Linked DNA regions of Homo sapiens. The protein of the gene in region 1 interacts with the protein of each later gene in a pairwise test. Each region holds a gene or a part of one and is shown on either strand. Other genes may lie near its edges.

The links. Proteins that work in one complex are often made in the same cells at the same time.
Region 2: the proteins of DCDC2 (region 1) and DYNLT2 interact in binary tests that used the Homo sapiens proteins (3 or more experiments, as listed by UniProt).
Region 3: the proteins of DCDC2 (region 1) and B3GNT5 interact in binary tests that used the Homo sapiens proteins (3 or more experiments, as listed by UniProt).

The regions. Positions count from the first base shown.
Region 1 is NC_000006.12:24,173,041-24,180,068, forward strand, and holds part of DCDC2 (doublecortin domain-containing protein 2), read right to left. Parts: intron 5,593-7,028; coding exon 5,290-5,592; intron 1,795-5,289; coding exon 1,690-1,794; 3' UTR 1-1,689. UniProt on the Homo sapiens protein: Protein that plays a role in the inhibition of canonical Wnt signaling pathway. May be involved in neuronal migration during development of the cerebral neocortex. Involved in the control of ciliogenesis and ciliary length.
Region 2 is NC_000006.12:169,741,568-169,748,595, forward strand, and holds part of DYNLT2 (dynein light chain Tctex-type protein 2), read right to left. Parts: intron 2,708-7,028; coding exon 2,501-2,707; intron 1,672-2,500; coding exon 1,513-1,671; intron 1-1,512. UniProt on the Homo sapiens protein: May be an accessory component of axonemal dynein and cytoplasmic dynein 1. Candidate for involvement in male sterility.
Region 3 is NC_000003.12:183,256,230-183,263,257, reverse strand, and holds part of B3GNT5 (lactosylceramide 1,3-N-acetyl-beta-D-glucosaminyltransferase), read right to left. Parts: intron 5,931-7,028; exon of another isoform or gene 5,818-5,930; intron 4,201-5,817; exon of another isoform or gene 1-4,200. UniProt on the Homo sapiens protein: Beta-1,3-N-acetylglucosaminyltransferase that plays a key role in the synthesis of lacto- or neolacto-series carbohydrate chains on glycolipids, notably by participating in biosynthesis of HNK-1 and Lewis X carbohydrate structures.

The DNA of each region.
Region 1 (7,028 bases):
CCTACCAACCCAAGATTGTTGCTTATAGCCCACAGTGCTTTATATCATCCCATTTGAAAAAGTAACGCTAGTAGAAAGCACAATTTAGATTTTACACCAGAAACATAGTACCCTGTTTCTAATTCATGCTCCCAGATCACTATATCCTTGTGTCATTATCTCTTCCAAATACTGTTACATTATCTCTCTGTTTACACTTCTGATCTGTGGAAAATACCAAAATCATATTAAGAAAAAACACATCTATTTTCTATAGTATTATTAAGTGCTTTATATAACTGCCAACTCTTTATTCCAAATGAAACCTGGAAGAGAAAAAATGTTTTAAACTTGTAATTGTGAATTTTAGAAAAGCACTAGAAGTTAAAATTTCAAGCTTACAACTTCCACATAATTAAAAATATATCCTTTAAGAAAAATATATTATTTCTATATTTATGGAAGAACATCTCTTAAGAATTCATAAAAAGGACGAAATTATGTTTTAATTATGTTTTTATGTTTTCCCCATACATACCTCACAAGGCAACTATAAATCAATTTAGTCAGTCCATGAAGTTGTGATTCAGGAATTGGTTTCATTATAATAACTTCTAAAGTTTTACAATTTCTATCAGATGCCTTCTAATTACAAAGAAATCTGCTTGAAATTCTAACTATATCATGCTAGGAAAAATAAATATTTGCTGATATCCCTAGGGCAAAAACATAGTAAAACAGTCTTAATAGAAATAAGGCAAAAAACAAGTTAAATTGAGCAGTCACAAACTCTTCATATAGTCTACTTTTTTCTTCCTAATACACTTTTATTTTTGTTGAAAACTATTTGAAAATAATTTAATCTTTGGAATAGCCAATATCAGGTTCTCTAATAACATAAGGGAGAAGAGAGAGATACTATTGGTAAAGATAGACTGGATCAGTGAAAATCCACAGGATTTCCATTATCTGCAAACCATACATCCAGGCTTTATAATATAACTGGGTGCTCCTTTACAATTCCTTCCTGAGTGTGCGCCATTGGAGCCACAAGCATGCAAGCCTGAAAGCATTTAAGTGACGGCATGGCGATACTAGTCACTAACACTCTGAACCAATGCTTCCTCCCACCAAAATGAACGCCTTGCTCTGTCTTTGTAGTTCAAAGGTGGATTTTGGCTAAGGAGGAAGAAAGAAAGGCATGTTAACAAGTCATGGACACATTTTGATCTACTGCCATCTCCAAATTATGTCTGAAAGTAAATCGCAATCTGTTCATTCAAGAGTTTATTGCTTTAAGAAAATAGTACATGCTTTCCTATTACCAGTTCTTTAAAATTCTACGCCTTCCTAGAGAAAAATTATTTAGAATAAACTGCCTTCTAAACTTATAATAAAGCGTACAATAAGAGTGATCCTATTTTTCATCCTTTACAAGTGGCAATTGTCTTCCAGTGCAAATTCTCCTCTGTCCGTCTTATTTAATATTTCTATATGACTTTTAAAACACATGCAATAAAAGTAAGTAATTATCCTTTAGTAGCCATTTAAAGTTATCTGGTCTTTCCACTAGGCTTCTAATGTTATAATTCGTAGGTAGTATTCGACCATAGTGTCACATTATATTCAGCAATAACTATGTGCTTATCTTTCAAGTATGATAACCCTTCATTTTTCTTGCGATCCATATACTCTCTTTTTAAAAATGTTCTAAGCCACGGCAGCATAGTCCTTGTTTTGTTGGTTGTTTTCATTTTCTTCTGGACTGGTAATTTTTACTTCTGGCCTTGGTGGTCTTTGAGGGTCTACATCAGCCTAGAAGAAAATAGATCAAAACAAAGGTATTCAGCTGTTTGGTTCACAAAGGTAATGACATTTATAAAGAAAAAATTACTCAAGATTCTATTTAATTATATAAATATTTAACTAAAAAGAGTTCCTGGGGTTCCCTTTGTTTTTTTGTCTATCATTACCCAGTGGACATACTGTTTTCTCAACACTTGTACAAAAGTCCTTTTGGGGTTCATAATCTACTAGTGCTTGAAAGGCCCTGACTCATTTTGTATGCTGCAGGCTTTATTTTTCTCATTTTTTCTTGATTTCTCTTTGAGCTTTTCTTCAATTTAGTTATACTTTTCAGTTTAGCATTTTCAGAGACAAAGGAAGAAAAAATTCAGGGACATTCTCCTAATTTTAGTTTCCTCCTAGAATTCACAAATTCGTTGTGAATATGGTACCAAGTACCATCAAGTAGCAAGTAGATAAGAAAAAGACAGAAAATCAAAATGTGGAGGCAGCATTTCTCCAACAACAACTATTGCTCCTGCCACTTGGGTTTTTCCTGTTAATAATGACATTGTCTCATGTACAACTCACCTTTCCCCGACTACACTGAAAACTGAGTGGGTGAGATTAGAACCAGCAGGTTTGCAAAGTCTGCTCTATGAAATCCTAGAGGCTCCACAGCCCCCACAAGGGCACCCAGTCTGGGGGACAGAGTAGCTCCAGGTTCCCCAAACCACACAGGCCATGACTGATGCTTTGAAGAAATTATATATATATATGACTGGTGCCGTGTCTTATTTCACACTGTTCCTTTGTGAAATGTCTCAAATGGTATCTTGAATATAGTACAAGTTCAATCTCAATAAATGTCAATTGTTTCTTGTAAATTCTCTGTATTTCCTGGTATTTTCCTACAATCATATCTCGCTTTGTACAAGAATTGTTACATGGAACAAAATGTTACACGGTGAACAGAATTTCTAGTCATTTTATTAGTAGACAGTCCTTCTGTAAAAGTTAACTATTCATTTTTAACTTACAATTCACATAAATTTGGTTTCTCATATATTTCGGTATGCTTAAAATATACCTATACTAATATGTTAGGGAGAACAAGATAAAATATATCATTGTTATAAGTAAGAGATGAGTCAAATAAGATTAAATCTCTTTGTGAGTAACTGCTCTGTTACTAATCCCTAATTAGGCCGGGCATGGTGGCACGTGGCTGTAATCTCATCACTTTGAGAGGTCAAGGCAAGAGGATCGCTTGAGTCCAGGAGTTAAAAACCAGCCTGTGCAACACAGGGAGGGAGACTTCCTCCATATTAAAAAATATGTATATATGGCCTGGCATGGTGGCACCTGTGGGCCCAGCTATCACAGGAGGATGAAGTGGGAGGATCACTTGAGCCCGGGAGGTCAAAGCTGCAGTGAGCTGTGATCACGCCACTGAACTCCAGCCTGGGTAGCAGAGTGAGACCTTGTCACAAAAAAAAAGTCCCTAATTAGATGTTGTCTCAAAAAAAAAAATCACAAACTAGGCACTTCCTTATTTGAATTCCCAAGAATTTAGATTCACTCTCATTACATACCACAGGTCAATGCCAAATTACATAACCTTGATCTTGACGGATGCCCAATTCCTATCAAAAGCCTATTTTTCCCCTTTAAAAAAATATTCATTTGTCATAATTGGCAAATAAAAATTGTATGTTTATAGCATACAAAATGATGTTTTGAAATATGTATCCATTGTGAAATGGCTTGAGTTAATTAACATACACCTTACCTCACATACTTATCTTTTGTGGTGAGAACCCTTCAAATCTGCTCTGTTAGTGATTTTCAAGTATACAATACATTGTTATTATACGTTAGACACCTTACTGTACAATAGATCTCTTGAACTTATTCCTCCTTTCTCGCAGAAATTTTGTATCATTTGACCAACATCTCTCCAACCCTGTACTCAGTCCCTGGTAACCACCATTCTACCTTCTACTTCTATGAGTTTAACTGTTTTTAGATTACACATATAAGTGAGATCATATGGTATGTGTCTTTCTTTGGTTGGCTAATTTCACTTAACATAATGTCCTCCAGGTTTATTCATGTCATTGCAAATTACAGGATTATTTTTTAAAGTTATATTTATGGAAGATGGAAGGACAGGCAATCCATTCATTTCTGTAAAATCTATTTATGTGATATGTTGAATTAAGCTAGACCACTGGAAAAAAATCATGTTGGATCTTACTATCTAGTCCCACACAGAATTACACTTTGATTTCATTTTGTAAGCTTTCATCAAAAGCTACTACAACAAAGAGTTGTATGAAACCTACTATTACAGGTGCCATATAAATGACGCTGAGGACTATGTAGAACTAATATGGGGAATTTCTTATAGAATAGGACTATGATTATCTCACCTTGAGAAAAGATAAGAGACATGCTGAGCATTTTCATTTAGATGTTAAGAACATTTTGAATAACTCATATAGTGGATTGCAGATAACTTCGTACTGTTACTGAAACCTGGCCACCAGAACATTTTGCATTTTGCCACCGCTAAACTTGCTTTCCCTAAGCAAGATAAATCAGATGCATCAATAATAAATAATCAAGTAGACCTCAGTGATCATAGTGGGTATTAGGAATGAGTAGTCCAAGGCCCACTTCAGCAGTTACAGCCTTGAGGGAGGTGGACCTTGAACTGACGGATAGACAGGAAGGGATGGGATAAGCAGATGGTGAGAATGTTATGGAGAACATCCTGCCTCTTATGCTGTGAGACTCAACTTGAGCCTGGCAGCAACAGGATCATATTGTCCCGTGGAAGAATGCCAGGACTGATGAGTATCCAACTCCAGGATCAGACATAGAAGAACAGGCTAGGAAAAGAGAGATTTCACCAGATATTACTTTTTCTGTTCTCTTATTTTCACCACATATTTCTTTATCCTCTCTGTATAATAAATAGAACTGTATACTACCCAAGTGCCTAATGTGTTGAATGCTTAATTTGATTAATCTATTTAAAGTAGAAAAAAGCAAACTAACTTCAGTACTTCTAGAGATCAAAGAAATCACTCATAATAGAGAAAGTATTCCTTATTTCATGTCTAGGTCTCACTGGTCTTGATATTCTTTTTTGGTTTCTACCTTCTCTGGTCTTAACTTATTCTTACTTTTTTATATTTCTTTCTTGGATTATGTATGTTCTTAGAAGGCTCTGTACATTTTCTTGTAAAATTAGGCAGGAGGTAAGTAGATGGATGGGTCAATGGCTAAATGTATGAATGGCAGAAGGGCAGACACAAACTGTCAGGTCAATGGCAGTATTGTTAAATGGTTGAAATAACTAGTAAGTAAAGGGATTAAATGGTATTGGATCTTTCCTACTCAACCACAAGTGGTTTCAATACAAGTCCTAAACACTTGATTAATTCTCTGAATGCACGCATGTACACACACACATATTCATGCATTCACATAAGCAAGCAAAAGCAATAGAAATACCTCATCTTGTCCACTGCCAGCTCCTTGAGACTTTCTTTCCTTGTCTAGGACCAGTTGAAGCTCATTATTAACCTGCTGCAGCTCCTCACCATTCTCCTCATCGGTGCCTCCATTTACACGAGCAGGGCGTGCCTGCTGCTCACTGTGATCCAGAATCTCCTCGACTTGCTCAGGGGCATCTGTAGCCTCCCTACCTCCTTCCTCTTCAAGGTCACCATTCATTCCTGAAAAGTCTTCTTTCTGTTCTGCATCCTTGTTTGCCTTCTCTCCATCTTCTTCCTCGTCTACTATTTCTGCTGGCCTCTGATGGATCAAAAGGAATAATGGATAAAAGTAAGAAGCATAACAGAACATTTCCACTGCACATCATAGTAATGTAATACTTATATTACAGTCAAGTAAAACATTCTTACATTTGCATAGTACTTTACAGTATAGAACGCACTTACGTTTACTGAGTACCTACCACATGCCACATGTTACAAGCATTCCCTCATTTAATCCTCACAACAATCCTTTGAAATTGTTATCATTCCCATTTTGCAGATGAGAAAACTAAACAGGTGGAGCCCAAGATCCCACAGAAAGAGCCAGAGTTTGAACTAGGCCTGTGACTCCAGAACCAGTGCTTGTAACCCCCATGGCAGATAGAAAGCCAAACCGCAAGGTCCTTGGCCACTGTCTAGTGAAGCACCTGGCCCAGAGGAAGAGGTTTAAAAAAAAAAAGTCTTTGTGGAAAGATTGTCATCCTCAAGGCTAAGGATGAGGGCAATGGCACCAGGCTGTGAATTCATGTTTTCTGACGTGGAATGTAGACAGCTTTCCCCACAATGCCTAAGGAAGCTGACAGCTTCTCTCTAAACACAATAACTGATTTTCCTGCAGATCTAAGGTCAAGAAACTATATGTCCTCTCTGTAAGAATAATAAATGCTGAGGGCCAGGCACAGTGGTCACACTTGTAATCCTAGCACTTTGGGAGGCCGAGGCGGGCAGATCATGAGGTCAGGAGATCGAGACCATCCTGGCTAACATGGTGAAACCCCATCTCTACTAAAAATACAAAAAAATTAGCTGGGCATGGTGGTGCACACCTGTAGTCCCAGCTACTCGGGAGGCTGAGGCAGGAGAATGGCGTGAACCCAGGAGGCAGAGCTTGCAGTGAGCCGAGATCGCGCCACTGCACTCCAGCCTGGGTGACAGAGCAAGACACCATCTCAAAAAAAAAAAAAAAAAAAAAAAAAAAAAGAATAAATACTAAAGTATTTCATAAACCTTAATCAAGCATTTCACTGTTCTACTGTTATTTTGATACACATAAATCTGCTTCAAGAGGGAACAGGAGGCCAGGCACGGTGGCTTATGCCTGTAATCCCAGCACTTTGGGAGGCCGAGGCGGGCAGATCACGAGGTCAGGAGATTGAGACCATCCTGGCTAACACGGTGAAACCCCATCTCTACTAAAAATACAAAAAATTAGCCAGGCGTGGTGGTGGGCACCTGTGGTCCCAGCTACTCAGGAGGCTGAGGCAGGAGAATTGCATGAACCCGGGAGGCAGAGCTTGCAGTGAGCCCAGATAGTGCTACTGTACTCCAGCCTGGGCGACAGAGCAAGACTCCATCTCAAAAAAAAAAAAAAAAAACAAGGGGTGGGGGAGGGAACAGGAGGCCAGCTTTCAGAGCCAAGACTTTGGAGAAAAACCCAGGTTCAAGTCCTGACCAGGCACTTACTGGCTGTTA
Region 2 (7,028 bases), about 150 Mb from region 1:
CAATAATATAAGCTGAAACATTCCCCCACTGCACATCATGCCACTATCTACTAGCTACTAGTCCAGCTACACTTGTTACATATCAAGCACTCCAAGTCATCCCTGCCTCAGGATCTTTGCACTTGAAGTTTTCTCTGCTTGGAACATTCTCCCTTCTCTTTGGTACAGCTGGTTCCTTCTTATCTGAACATCAGAGGGTTCTCCCTTCTCTAAACAATCCCAAGTAGCCACTCTGCTACTCTGTCATATCCCTACCTTAATGTTCTCTTTGTAGCACTTATCATCTACAACGTCCCTATTTCTTAAGTCTGTATGTCATATGTGGTGCAGCTTCTCTTCTCCATGGGAGCCAGGACGGTTCTTTCTTGCTGACTGGCGGTTCTCTCGCCAGTACCCCTCTGCCAGTCCAGGTCCCCCTCCCCATGCTTCATCATGCAGTCCACTCCTCTATGGAACCTCTACAGATTCTTCCAAACACAGCTTTTTCTCTCTTTTCTCTCCAACTCCCACATATTCCTTACCAACTCCTTACATAATTACACAGCCTAGTGATATTATCTCTTTATTAATAAATAATGTTTATAATTACCTTGCTGTTTATTGAGGGCTCTGTGCTGGTGATTATGTTAAGGATTTTAATACAGATAATTTCATTTAATCTTCACAACAGCTCTAGGAAGCCAGTTTTATCATCACCATTTTATAGATGAAGAAACTGTGCCAAGGCCACAGCCAGCAAGTGTGGCAGAGGCAATCTGACTCCAAAACCCAGGCTGTTTACATTATCCCTATCATTTTATTTCCCTGAATTCTAAATTGTGCTGCTTTATCTCCTTAAGTAGAGTAAAATCTCCTTGAGAATCATGGTCCGTGTTTTATCATTCCTTGATTTTCCTTAGTACCTAACACCTATTAGTGCCCAAAATAAATTTACTGGTTAACTTAAATGACATTAAACTGTCAAAATTGATATGATCAAGGAACAGAATAGCAGTGCAATTTAATAAATTAGTAGTACCAAATTGCTACTTCTAGGTTTGTACTTTTCTTTCTTTTTTTTTGAGTCTGTTGCCCAGGCTGGAGTGCAGTGGAGCGAACTCGGGCCACTGCAACCTCTGCTTCCCAGTCTCAAGTGAGTCTCCTGCCTTAGCCTCCCGAGTAGCTGGGAATACAGGCACCCACCACCATGCCCAGCTAATTTTTGTATTTTTAGTAGAGACGGGGTTTCACCATGTTAGCCAGGCTGGTCTCAAACTCCTGACCTCAGGTGATCCACCTGCCTCAGCCTCCCAAACTACTGGGATTACAGGCATGAGCCAACGAACCCAGCTGGTTTGTACTTTTCAAATAATTTACAGTGAAATAAATATACTTAACAACATGATACTTTCCTTCAAAAAGTACCTCAGAATCTATGGCATGCCCTTGAGTCATCACAATAAAAATCAAATCACTAGGGAGGAGATGCCTTATAGTTCTAATTGCTAGATCCTGTATCAATGGGGTACTTACATTTATTGCTTGGCCAGTCTTTTGAATAAATAATACTTTTATAATGAACTTATAACGGTGGTACCCAAATTCTTTGACTGCTAACAGTATGCGGTCTGCCAATTCAAGTGACAAGTGAGAGAATACTTTATCATCATATTTGACATCTTTAAGACTTTCCTTTAAGAAAATTTAAGAAAAATACTTTTATTTTCAAACCAAATATTTTCTATATAAAAATTCAAGTAGAAAACATGTCTAAATAATATATATATAACTGTTTTAAAATAAATATATTCCTAACTAAATAATATTAAATAAATTTTATGCTTACCTATTTCAGTAACAATTTTGAGGAATATTTATTGGGGTTTTCAAATTATATTCAATTACTTTTCATTAGCGATACAAGCTGTAAGTTGTAATTTACTAGACTACTCTGCCAAACAGTTAATAGACACAAGGAGATTTTCTAAAGAAGACTTCTAGAAGGTAAAGGAAATTCTTAGGTAAAGGAAAGAAACCTTTTTAAATTTATACATTTATTAAAATTCAGATTTTGGTTTTCTTATACTGAAGATTACTTGGACTCAGAACCTGTACCAAGTCACTGCCCTGCTCAGTGGGCTCATATTAAAACTACTTCTTTCCAGCCCTCCCCTCTAGTCTCTCACTCCACTAATTTTTCTCTGGCCTCCAGGAAAATGAAATCAAAGATTTCTAACCATGTTTATTAATAAATTAATGTATAGCTTGAAGGAAATGGACATGGCTTGTGGACTATAAAGCATTACTCTTACAAACCAGGAGCAGAACTGGACACCTAGCAGACAGACTACACATCTCTGATTAACTAACTTGTTGTGCCTGCACCAATGACACAATACCTTCTGGTTCTAGTGACAATTGTATGAGCCAATTCCTGGAATAAATTTCTTCGTATATATAATTTCTGTTTCTCTGTAGAACCCTCATACAATACTGCTATCATATATATTTATCAACCTACTGTTAGTATCTGCTGGACTTTAGTTTCTACTGAATGAGCTTGGAATTTCTTCAATGGCTCCATTCTATATGAATTAGCAAACTTTAATTTTGCCAGGGCACTCTTCCATTCTTTACCTATATCAGCAATTGAGTCATCAAAAGGAGGCTCCACATACTGAACATTGTGAATTGACTCTCTCAGTCTTTCTCTTAAAATCTGTGTATACTGGAGGAGAAAGAGAGAGGGGAAGAGAGAAAGGCAGAAAGATTACTTTTTAAACTGTAAATGAGTTTTCAGATTAAATAAGCCTGTACAGTGGGACAGGGCTCACACAAAGCTTGGAAATTTGTTAAACAGATTTCTACAATAATGTGGTTGCTAAATCCTAGATTCACTCCTGGCTATCAATTTGGCAAAAAAAAATAGGAATACTATTTATTCTTTTATCTATACTCACAAACATATACATACAAATTGCATGCATATATTTAGAATATCCATGGATGATCCAAAGGAACTAGAAACAAGAGTGGCCTCCAGGGAGGGCAACTGAGTGGCTATGGGATGGAGATATAGGGAAAACCTTTCTTCCTCCCTACCCTGAGATTATGAAAATATTATCCTTCATTGTCTTAAAATTTTATTTTACTTCATTTACTTATTTTTAAATAATACAATTATTTAGATAGCACATTCGTAAGTCTTAAGGTGAAAAGACACCAAAAGAGCATTGATTTGATATATATATCAGTTCATGCTTTTGACATGAAACATCCATTCTGTGACATCCAATATGCATTAATGAAATATTTGCTTAGTGCCCAATATGTCCCAGATAAATGCTCTAACCTCTTAAGTTAAAGCAGTAAGCTTCATTTTATTAATAGCCAGGAATTTCTTTTTCTTGCCTAATTGCTTGGCTAGAACTTCCAGCTCTATGTTGAAAAGAAGTGGCAAAAGTGGACATCCTTGCTTTGTTACTAATATTACAGGAAAAGCTTTCAGTGTTTCCCCATCGAGTATGATGTTTGCTGTGAAGTTTTTTTTGTTTGTTTTTTTTTTTGAGACAGTCTTGCTCAGTCGCCCAGGCTGGAGTGCAGTGGCGCGATCTTGGCTCACTGCAACCTCTGCCTCCTAGGTTGAAGTTATTCTTCTGCCTCAGCCTCCTGAGTAGCTGGGACTACAGGTGCATGCCACCACTCCCAACTAATTTTTTTGTTGTTGTTGTATTTTTAGTAGAGACGGGGTTTCACCATGTTAGCCAGTATGGTCTTGATCTCCTGACCTCGTGATCCACCTGCCTTGGCCTCCCAAAATGCTAGGATTACAGACATGAGCCACTGCACCCAGCATTTGCTGTGCAGTTTTCATATAGAGCTTTTATTAGGTTGAAGTAGTTTCCTCCTATTTCTAGTTTTTGGGGTGTTTTTATAATAAAAGAGTGTTGAATTTGACATATAGTTTTCTTCATCAATTGAGATTTATCATGTGGTTTATTTCATTTAGTTAATGTGGTGTATTACCTTGATCGATTTTCATATGTTGGACCATCCTTGCATTCCAGGAACAAATTTCACTTGGCCTCGGTGTCAAATCCTTTAAATAAAATGCTGAATTCAGTTTGCTAGTATTTCGTTTAGAATTTTTGCATCAGTGTTAATACATGATACAGGTCTGTAATTTGCTTTTTTTGTAGCATCTTTGTCTGCCTTTGGTATTAGGGTAATGCTGACTTCACAGAATGAGTTAGACAGTATTCTCTCTGCTTTTATCTTCTGAAAGAGATTGTAATAATTGATATAACTTTTTCCTTAAATGCTTGGTAGAATTCACCAAGGAAATCACCTGAACCTGGTGATTTCTGCTTTGGAAGGCTGTTATTGATTCAAGTTTTAAAAACAGATATATGCTTATTCAGATTATCTATTTCTTTTTGTATGACTTTTGGGAAATTGCATCTTTCAAGGAACTGGTCCATTTCATCTAGGTTATCAAATTTCTGGGCACAGAATTGTTCATAATATTCTTTCATTATATTTATAGTGTTCATGTAATTTCTAGCAATATCCTGACTTGCATTTCTGCTATTAGTAATGTGTGTCCTCTCTTTCTTAGCCTGCATAGAGGCTTATAGATTTTATTGATCTTTTCAAAGAAAAAGCTTTTGGTTTTGTTGGTACCTGATTTCAATTTCATCAATTTCTGCTATAATTTTTATTATTTCTTTTCTTCTTGGATTTAATTTGTTCTTCTTTTTCTAGTTTCTTTGAGGCTTATTTTAGCTCTTTCTTCTTTTCTAATATATGCACACATTCAATACTATACATTTCCTTCCAACCCATTTTTGCTGCACTCTACAAATTTTGGTATGTTTTCATTTTTATTTAGCTCAAAATATTTTTTAAATTTGAGATTTCTTCTTTTGTAACAGTGTTTTTTGATGTGTAGCATTTCTAGTTCTTTCTTAGGATTTCCATTTCTATGCTTACATTGCTCATCCGTTCTTGCATGCTATTTTGTCAACTACAGCCCTTTAACATATTAATCATAGTTACTTAAATTGTGATAATTCCAACATCCCTGCCATGTCTGGTTCTGCTGCTCACTCTGTGTGTTTGTTGTTGTTTTTAGTATGCCTAATTTTTTTCCTGATAGCCAGACATGATTCACCAGGTAAAGAAACTGCTGTTAACAAGGCCTCTGGCAATGTGCTGGTAATGTATTAACGGAGAGGAAGCATTCTGTAGTTGTATGACTAGGTATTTTAGTGAACCTGTGCTTCTGGACTGTGAACTTCACATATGTTTCTGAGTTTTTTGTTTTTTTCCCTACTTGCTTAAGTCACACAGGATGGCTAAGGAGGGCTGGAGTGAGGTCACAGAGCAAACTGCTGCTTGTTAATCTACTTTTGGGGGCAGCAGTTTGTCCTGTGACCTCACTTTTTTCAGTTTGTTCAGCTTTTTACTTGTTAGGACATAGTAGGGACTTTAAGGAAGCTGGAAGTCTTACCTTTGCTTTTTGAACGATATTTTAGCTGAGTATAGAATTCTAGGTTGTTAGTCATTTTCTTTCAATCCTTAAAGATGATGCTTCGATGTCTTCTGTCTTGCATTGTTTCTGAGAAGTATGCTGTCATTTTGTCTGTTTCTATGTGTGTAACGTTCCTTTGTTCTAGTTGCCTTTAAATTTTTAAGTCACTGGTTTCAAGCAATTTTATTATTCTATGTCTTGGCATAATTTTCTTCATGTGTCTTGTGCTTGGAGTTCACTGAGCCTCTTAGATTTGTGGGTTTATAGTTTTCAACAGATTTGAAAATTTCTCATTCCTTATTTCTTCCAGTACTTTTTGTCTGTCCTCTCTCACCTCTTTGGGGACTCAAATTATAAGAACGTTAGGCAACTTTAAGTTCTGTCAAAGCTCATTGACATCGTGTAATATTTTTTCAGCATCCCCCCCAATTTCCACATCTCTAAATGTCCTTTCTTCTGCACTGTTGAATCTGCTGTTAATACCATTTAGTGTATTTTCATCCCTGACATAGTATTTTTCATCTACAGAAGTTCAATTTGAATTTAACATGCTCAGTCTTTCTCTACACTCTTAAATATATGGAATGTAATTATAATAACTTCATATGATTAAATTTGACGAAAACTAATAACTCTCTTAACTACTTTAATGTCTGTTTATACTAATTCTATTTTTGTGTAATTTCTGGGCTGTTTTTACTGCTTCTTCAATTTTGAACTTTATTTTCGTGCTTTTCTGTAGGTCTATTAATATTTAAAGACCAGACAGTGTGAATTTTACCTTCTTATAGGCTGGATATTTTTGTATTCCTAAGACTCTTGAGCTTTCTTCTAGAACAAAGACATTTGGAAACAGTTTAATCCTCTTTAGCCTTGCTTCTCAACCTTGATAAGCCAGATCAGAGAACTTGTTCTCTATTTTTTCCCACTACTGAGGCAATACACGTCTTAGCACGCTAACCAAAGCCCTGTATTTTTCATGATTTTCCACTTTTTCTGGTGGGAACATGTCCAAGGATTTTTTTTCTGTTCCTTTTGGGTGATTCTTTCTCCACCTCCACTCTCCACCTTTGGTGAGAAGCTTCCTCACCAGATGCACTGCTGCACTCAGCTGAATATTCTGGGAAACCCTCTGTAGGTCTTTGGGGCGGTTTGTGCATCCCTGTCTTAATACTCTGCTCTCCAGTCTCATGCTACCTTGGCTTCCCAGGCTCCTAACTCCTTTTGAAATAAAGGAGGCCTTTCCTTGTGTTGTAGCCTGGAAACTCTCACCAGGCAATTAAGGTGGGGGCAATATTGGGGTTCACCTTACCTATTTCTCATCTCTTGGAAATCACTCTCGTCCTGCCTGACACCTAAATCAATGGAAACAATTGTTCCATACATTTTTGTGTGTTACTTTAAGTAGTTTCTGATAAGAATTACTCCATATTGGCTGCGAGTAGAAGTCCCTCACATAAATAAATCTCTTCTTGTGATCATCTGTCAGGCTTCTGTGTCTCTTAACTGCAAAAGC
Region 3 (7,028 bases), on another chromosome or scaffold:
CACCACACTCAAGTCTAAGGACACCTTATGGTGTGTATACCATTTTGATCATGTGATCTCCCAACACTCAAGACACCTTATCAGCCAGGAAGTTGTTTACATGGCTTCACTGAGAACTGCATTTCTTCTGAGACCTCAAATTCCAGGATACTCACTCTATAGTACACTCACTCCTCAGCTGCAACTTCTAAATATTCATCGAGAACCTTCTGCCACCCCACCCTGCCCAGCAGTCTCCTGACCTTTCTTCCTCACACACCTCCCCCGTTTCAGATGCAGAATCATTGGACACCTTTGCCCTCCCACCCCAACAACCCCAGACCCCAGCGCCCTCCCATCTTCCTGTTCCTATGACACCTCCAGGGCTGCTGGGGAAATGGGACTTACCAGGCAGGCAGCGTCACCACAAATGGCACTATCTAGCTTTGAGCAGTTTTCAGTGCTACGTGACTGTTCCTGAACTTGTCCCGAACCTTCTCCCTTTCCCAGTCTCTTCAGCGGCCATGCTAAATCTCCCCCTCCCAGGCTCTGTCCCCCCCACCCTGAAGACTTCACCTCCTGTCTGCTTCCTAGAGAAAGGAGGAGACATCAGACACACCATCAGCTCCTCCTCCCCTTCTGGGCCGCCTCCTCATGGGCTCCCTAGTTCCCCAACACTCACCATTCCCTCTATAAAACATACTGATCGGGCCGGGACTAGGGGGAGACAAGGGAGCCACTTATTTTAGGTGCACAATTTAAGGGGGTACCAAAAACTCCGTAGTCAGTATAATATTTTGATGCAATATTTTTAAAAAATCAAAGTTACTGAAAAAAATCCACAGTGAACAAAATGTCAAAACGGTAAACCAAGACAGGCTCCAACCCTGCACTTATACAGCCCTGCCTCACCTGACTCCCCTAATCCCTGTCCTGCTGACTGGGGCCTGCTGGGGGCTGAATATTGCCAACTTCCATGGACATGTCTGCATTCTTAGTATATGTATGTATACCAACCTAAAGTATCATAAAACAAGACTAACCCTTAGTGTATATAATAAAGTATCATAAAACAAGACTAACCCTTAGTGTATATAATAAAGTATCATAAAACAAGACTAACCCTTAGTGTATATAATAAAGTATCATAAAACGATACTAATCCTTGTATTAGTATTATGATACTTTAATTTGGTATATATATATATAATATATATGCATTCCTCATTCCTTTATATCTTTTAAACTTTTATTAATAAATATTCATATATATATATATATATGAATGCCCAATTCTATTCTTTTTTTTTTTTTTTTAATGCTGGACATGAAAACCTCCTAAAACGGTTGTCTGAACCATGAATGGATTGTGTTCTACATAGCTGAAAAACACCAATCTAGAATGGAATCAAACCTCTACCATAAAATCATCCTCTCTTACTTCAATTATTGCCAAAACAAGAACAAACCCAGAAATTCTATATAAGAAGGCAGTATAATTTAATGGAAAGACTAACAGATTAGAAGAAAACTAAGAAATTTAATCATTCCATTCTAGCTCTGGTTTTTTCCTTGCGGGGGAAATAAAATACTGTAGTGAAACCTACATAGAAAACAAGACTGAACTGATAATTTTCTTCATTTAAAAAATCAATTTAATACTTGGAATATCCCCATGCATCATGAAAATATAATGATCCCTTTAAAAGTGATATGCTTAGAAAGTAGACTATATAAGGCTCCTCCGGTGAGTCACAGTTTTTAAAAAAATTTCCTTTATATCCTCATTCCTTTATATCTTTTACATTTAAACTTTTATTACTTAATAAAGTCCCACGTGGGAGAGTTTTTAGTTCCTGTCCACACATAACTAAAGGAAAGAAAGATAAAATCTTCTGTACCATCTTTATGCTGCATTTTGTTCTATATTCCAAGTATTTTTTCCTGGCTTCTTCTCGTCATCTGTTTCCTGTTAAGTATAGCTAGGACCAATCTTCAGAAGCCAAACTGCCTTGTTGAGAGAGATCAGGAATAAAAAGCCCCAGATTTACTGGAAAAGCTATAATTTGATCTTCCTAGATTTTTTCTTAATAAATTACTTACAATAATCGGTGTTAAGAAATATAACTAGTTACTATTTGGTACTAATTGCCTAGTCTGTTTGCTCAAGGAGGAAGGAGGCAATGTGAAATGTGAATTTATAACTCACATTTTAAGGTGAAACATTAGATATCTTTGCAACTGTTACATTTCCAATATAAGACCTCTAAAAAAGAAAAGAAATTCTACCTAATGGCTGTCTTCAAGTGTTTTTGTGCTGGGGCTTTAGCTATATGGAACTTTATTTCAAGCCATGGGCAACAATTAGAAGCCATTTGGAATTCTTATCCTCCTGCAGAGAATACATTTGTAGAGTTAGTTCTTGATTCAGTGTTAGTCCAAAGACTTTAAATTCCACTATGGCAATCATGGCTTTGGGATAGAGGGGAAAGCTGGGTAATAAAACCTACAATGTGAATCCAGGTACAAGATCTCCACCTATGTAAACTCACTTATATCTCTTTATAAGTTAAACATGGGTGTAGATCTGTTTCCTGGTTATGGGGGAAGTAAAGACGGGGAATTTCAAATGAACAAATGGGTAAAGACAGACCCTAAGTCTTTATTAACGGGACTGGTGGCATGGGATTATAGATTATTCTTAGATTTTAGGGAAGTTATATGAACTCAATAATTCCCAGTAACCAGTTTGATTATGCAAAATTTGAAACAAATAAAAAAGCTGACATATAAAGGAGGTCTCAGAGAGGTCAAACACTCGCTTTTCTGAGCTTGGCCCTCTGTGCTCATTCTTGCAACACACTTGTTTGGGCTGACACGGTTGCTTGCTCTTTTAAATATAACTGTTGTCAGTTTTTTTCTTGCCTACTTAAGAAACTTCTCCTTTTACCCAGTCTAGCAACAGTTACTACCATGGGTATGTCTACTATATACCAGGCCCTGTTCCAAATGCCTTACGAATGTGGTAGCTCTTTAAGCCTTACAACAACCTTTGAGGAAGAAAGGATCTCCCTCCACATTTTGCAGAAGATACTGAGGCATCGAGATACCGAGTTAACCATGTAATGTCAACAAATTCCAGACCCTGTGGCAGCTTAGAGCAGCTTGTGAGTCCCAGCCCCATCCCTGTGTTCCTCACCTGCCCTTTTTCCTTGGCATGGGCACAGGTGTTCCTGCAGTTCTCATCGGGAGGGGAGGGCAGGGGAGGAGGTGGGCAGGGTCAAGAGAAGCAACCCAAGATGGATGAGAATTTGCTTCACTGCCAGAAGTGTGAAGTCATTTCTGTTTTGCTGCATTCTGTTAGCACTGTTCTTACTTCCTTCACTAACACACTCTTTTTCAAACCTTCCATTTCAGTTTTCCCTCCTTCTTCTTCTTGGTCTCACTAGTACTAGACAGTGGGCAGAAGTGACCTCATCAGTCTGTGTCCTTTGGGTGTAGTCTTTCAACCACAAAAAAGATTCAGGGACTCCAAGGATGGAGATCCAAAGTCGCAGGAGGGTGACAAAAAGAGGTGGGGTGGAAGGAAGGAGAGGAGGCAAAAAAGTACCGGACTCAGGGAGGATGTTTTAAGCAAGTATTGGGTAAAATGAAAGGCGAGGAGTCAGACACAGACACCCTGGCCTGGAAAAGCTGCCATTCTCTAATGAAAAAGCTGTATCAAAACCGTTTTCATGTGTAAAGGCAGGGAAAATCTGAAGATATATTCAAAGTCAGCTCATAAAATGACACGTAAGAAGTAAACCTGATGAAGAGATGTAAACCAGTTATCCATCATAAGGTAGATGAATAAAAAATACAAGTTCTCCTATCAATAAGAGTAAGAATTATTGCCTAAAATGCATACCCAGCCCTTTAATGTGATATAAAACATGCTACAAACAGCCACTACTCCTAGCCCCACCCCTGCCACCCCACTAGGACTCCTCAGACACAATGACTGCTTTATTTGAGTCACTAGAAGAACAACGTTCACTCAAGCTAGAATTTTTCAAACATTCTTGAGATTTGTTAGGCTGGCTTTGCCCCAGAAAAACTGACTAAGATACATTTGAAATGTTGCATTATGTTGGGTGGGCTTCATCCACAAATCTGTTATTAGAAACCCATATGCAGTTGGTCGTGTACGTTCATGGGTTCCGCATCCTCAGATTCAACCAACTACAGATCAAAAACATTTGAAAAAAAAATTTATGGTCGTGTCTGTACTGAACATGCACATTTTTTTCTTGTCATTATGCACTAAACAATACCGTGTAACAATTGTTTACATAGCATTTATATTGCATTAGTTATTATAAGTAATCTAGAGATGATTTAAAGTACATGGGCCAGGTGTGGTAGCTCATACTTGTAATCCCAACTACTTGGGAGGCGGAGGCAGGAGGATCATTTGACTCAGGAGCTCAAGGCTACATGCCTCTGCACTCTAGCCTGGACAACAGAGTGAGACCCATCTCTAAACACATAAAAATAAAAAAAAAGAGTACATGGGAATATTGCATAGGTTATAATATAAATGCTGTACCATTTTATATAAGGGACTTGAGCATGCATGGATATCAGGGGCGGGGGGGTGGTGTCCTGGGACTAATTCCCCAAGGATACTGAGGGACAACAAACTATGGACCCCAAACCAGGTGCTCTGTGAATGAAGAGCTTTCCTCTGAGATGAGGGAAGCAGGGAGAAGATGGAAACTGGGGAAGGCTTTGTGGGAGAGGTGGCAAATGAGCAGGAGCTAGAACAGAATTCAAATGTGGGTTTGGGGAGGAAAGGAGGAAGACACAGCTCAGAAAGAGAAGTCTACAGCCATACCCCGCTGAATGCACCTGATCCTGGCTGATCTCAGAAGCTAAGCAGGGTTGGGCCTGGTTAGTACTTGGATGGGAGAAAGAAAAGGAGAAGGGAGGAGTAGGGCAAGGAGCATTTCAACTGGCTTAAAGGGTGAAGTGGGCCGGGTGCGGTGGCTCATGCCTGTAATCCCAGCACTTTGGGAGGCCGAGGCGGGCGGATCAGGAGGTCGGGAGATCAAGACCATCCTGGCTAACATGGTGAAACCCCATCTCTACTAAAAACACAAAAATTAGCTGGGTGTGGTGGAGCATGCCTGTAATCCCAGCTACTCGGGAGGCTGAAGCAGGAGAATCGCTTGAACCCAGGAGGCGGAGGTTGCGGTGAGCCGAGATGGCACCATTGCACTCCAGCCTGGGCAACAGAGCGAGACTCCGTCTCAAAAAAAAAAAAAAAAAAAAAAAAAAAGGGTGAAGTGGAGGGAGCAAGGAATAAGACATTCCAAGAGAGACTACGCAGGAATTTTTTTTAAGCACATAAGAGAAAAAGTTGTGGCTTGAGTGGGGAAATGTCAAATCACTTAGTTTGGCTAGAAGTTAGGGTAAAGGGAAAAAACGGAAAAAAGGAGATCAGAAAGTTTAGCTGTGGTTGAATAATAATAAGAAAAACCAGGATTCAGAAACAGGATGACGATATAACCCAGTGTCTGCCTGTTGCCCAGTGGCAGTTCCTACGTCCCATTCTGGACATTGTCTTTAGAAGCAACACTTGATAGAGGGTTTATAACACAGAGGTACAAAAAGTAGAAGATGGTGTAAAACAAGAGGTATATGTAACATGTTTCTGTCTTGGTGGATCAACATTTAGTCTAAGTTAACTACCATTTATTAAGTGCCTGCCCTATTCTAGGCATTACAGCGGGCAGCCCTGAAAGTAGGTTAATACGTATATTTAACTAATTCAACAAACATTAACTTATCACATACTGTGTAGTAGGCCATGGGCAGGATAGGATGCTAAAAAGACTTCAGAGATGTTTCAGGTGTAGCTCTTCTATCAAAGGGTCAATAAATATTCCAGTGCAAGCTGGAATCTGGACCTGATGGTGGTGAAAGAGAGTAAAAAAGCCGAGAGTGTTTAAATGCCAACAAAAGTAGATGTATACTGTGCCTCTCCATTTACTAGTCACATGAGCTCGACTTGTCTCTAAACCATGTACCAGTGTTTTCTCAGGATCATTTGAGATAACTTGTTGACAATGTCAGTCCAGATTAGATGTTCCATCTGTGCAAATTTCCTTTCTCTAGAATCTGTTTGTGTAGCTTTACCAGGATGGGTTAGTTAATGGATGGCTGATTTTTTTTTCAGGTTTTTTTCTTTTTAGAATACTGAGCTATACTCATAATATGCTTCTTCTCAAAAAACATTAATTAGGTAGGAGTTTTTAAAAATACTGATCTGATGGCTAAGGGCCATTTAACACATCGCAAATACTGTTGAGGCAGAAGTATCATCCCTAATTGACTGAATATGGTCCTTCTCATGTTCCCCATTATTCCATTAATGGAATAACGGTCTTCCGTTATTCTTGTTCCCACAAGCACTTAAAATACATTTCAATTAGGATGACACAGGTATAAGATTATATGGTCCTCTAAAGTAAGAGAAGGAAACTTGAGGTGAGTCCATCCTTGAACTTACTTTGCTTAGAGCACTATGAAAAAGTTATAGGAAGTTATAGGAAAGGAGCAAAAGAGTCAAATCTGAAATATTAGGTGGATCTTAGGCTGTAGAACAGTATTTTGAACTTGAACTTTTGGGCTTTGTTGCCTACACACTTGGTAGAACATTCTCTTTTGTAGAGAACTGGCTTCTAGTGTTAAAGCCTTCTATGGAAGAGAAATCTGAATAAGTTACATATCAAAGCCAGCAACTGAATTTGTAGAATTAAAATGTTTCTAAAAAATCGCTTTTTTATTCAAATCTTGTATCTCACCTGATCAAGTTTCTTATCCTTTAAATATAAAGATTCTTACATCCCCTATATATATGTAAACTAATACATAATAATTAGATATTGCATACCGTAAGGAAAGTAATTCTAGATTTACACTGTTCTGGTTACATCTTCGCTCACAGAGATTCGATATCAAAGGGCAGAGCTCTTGTAATTTACTGTGCCTCAGTTTCTGGAACA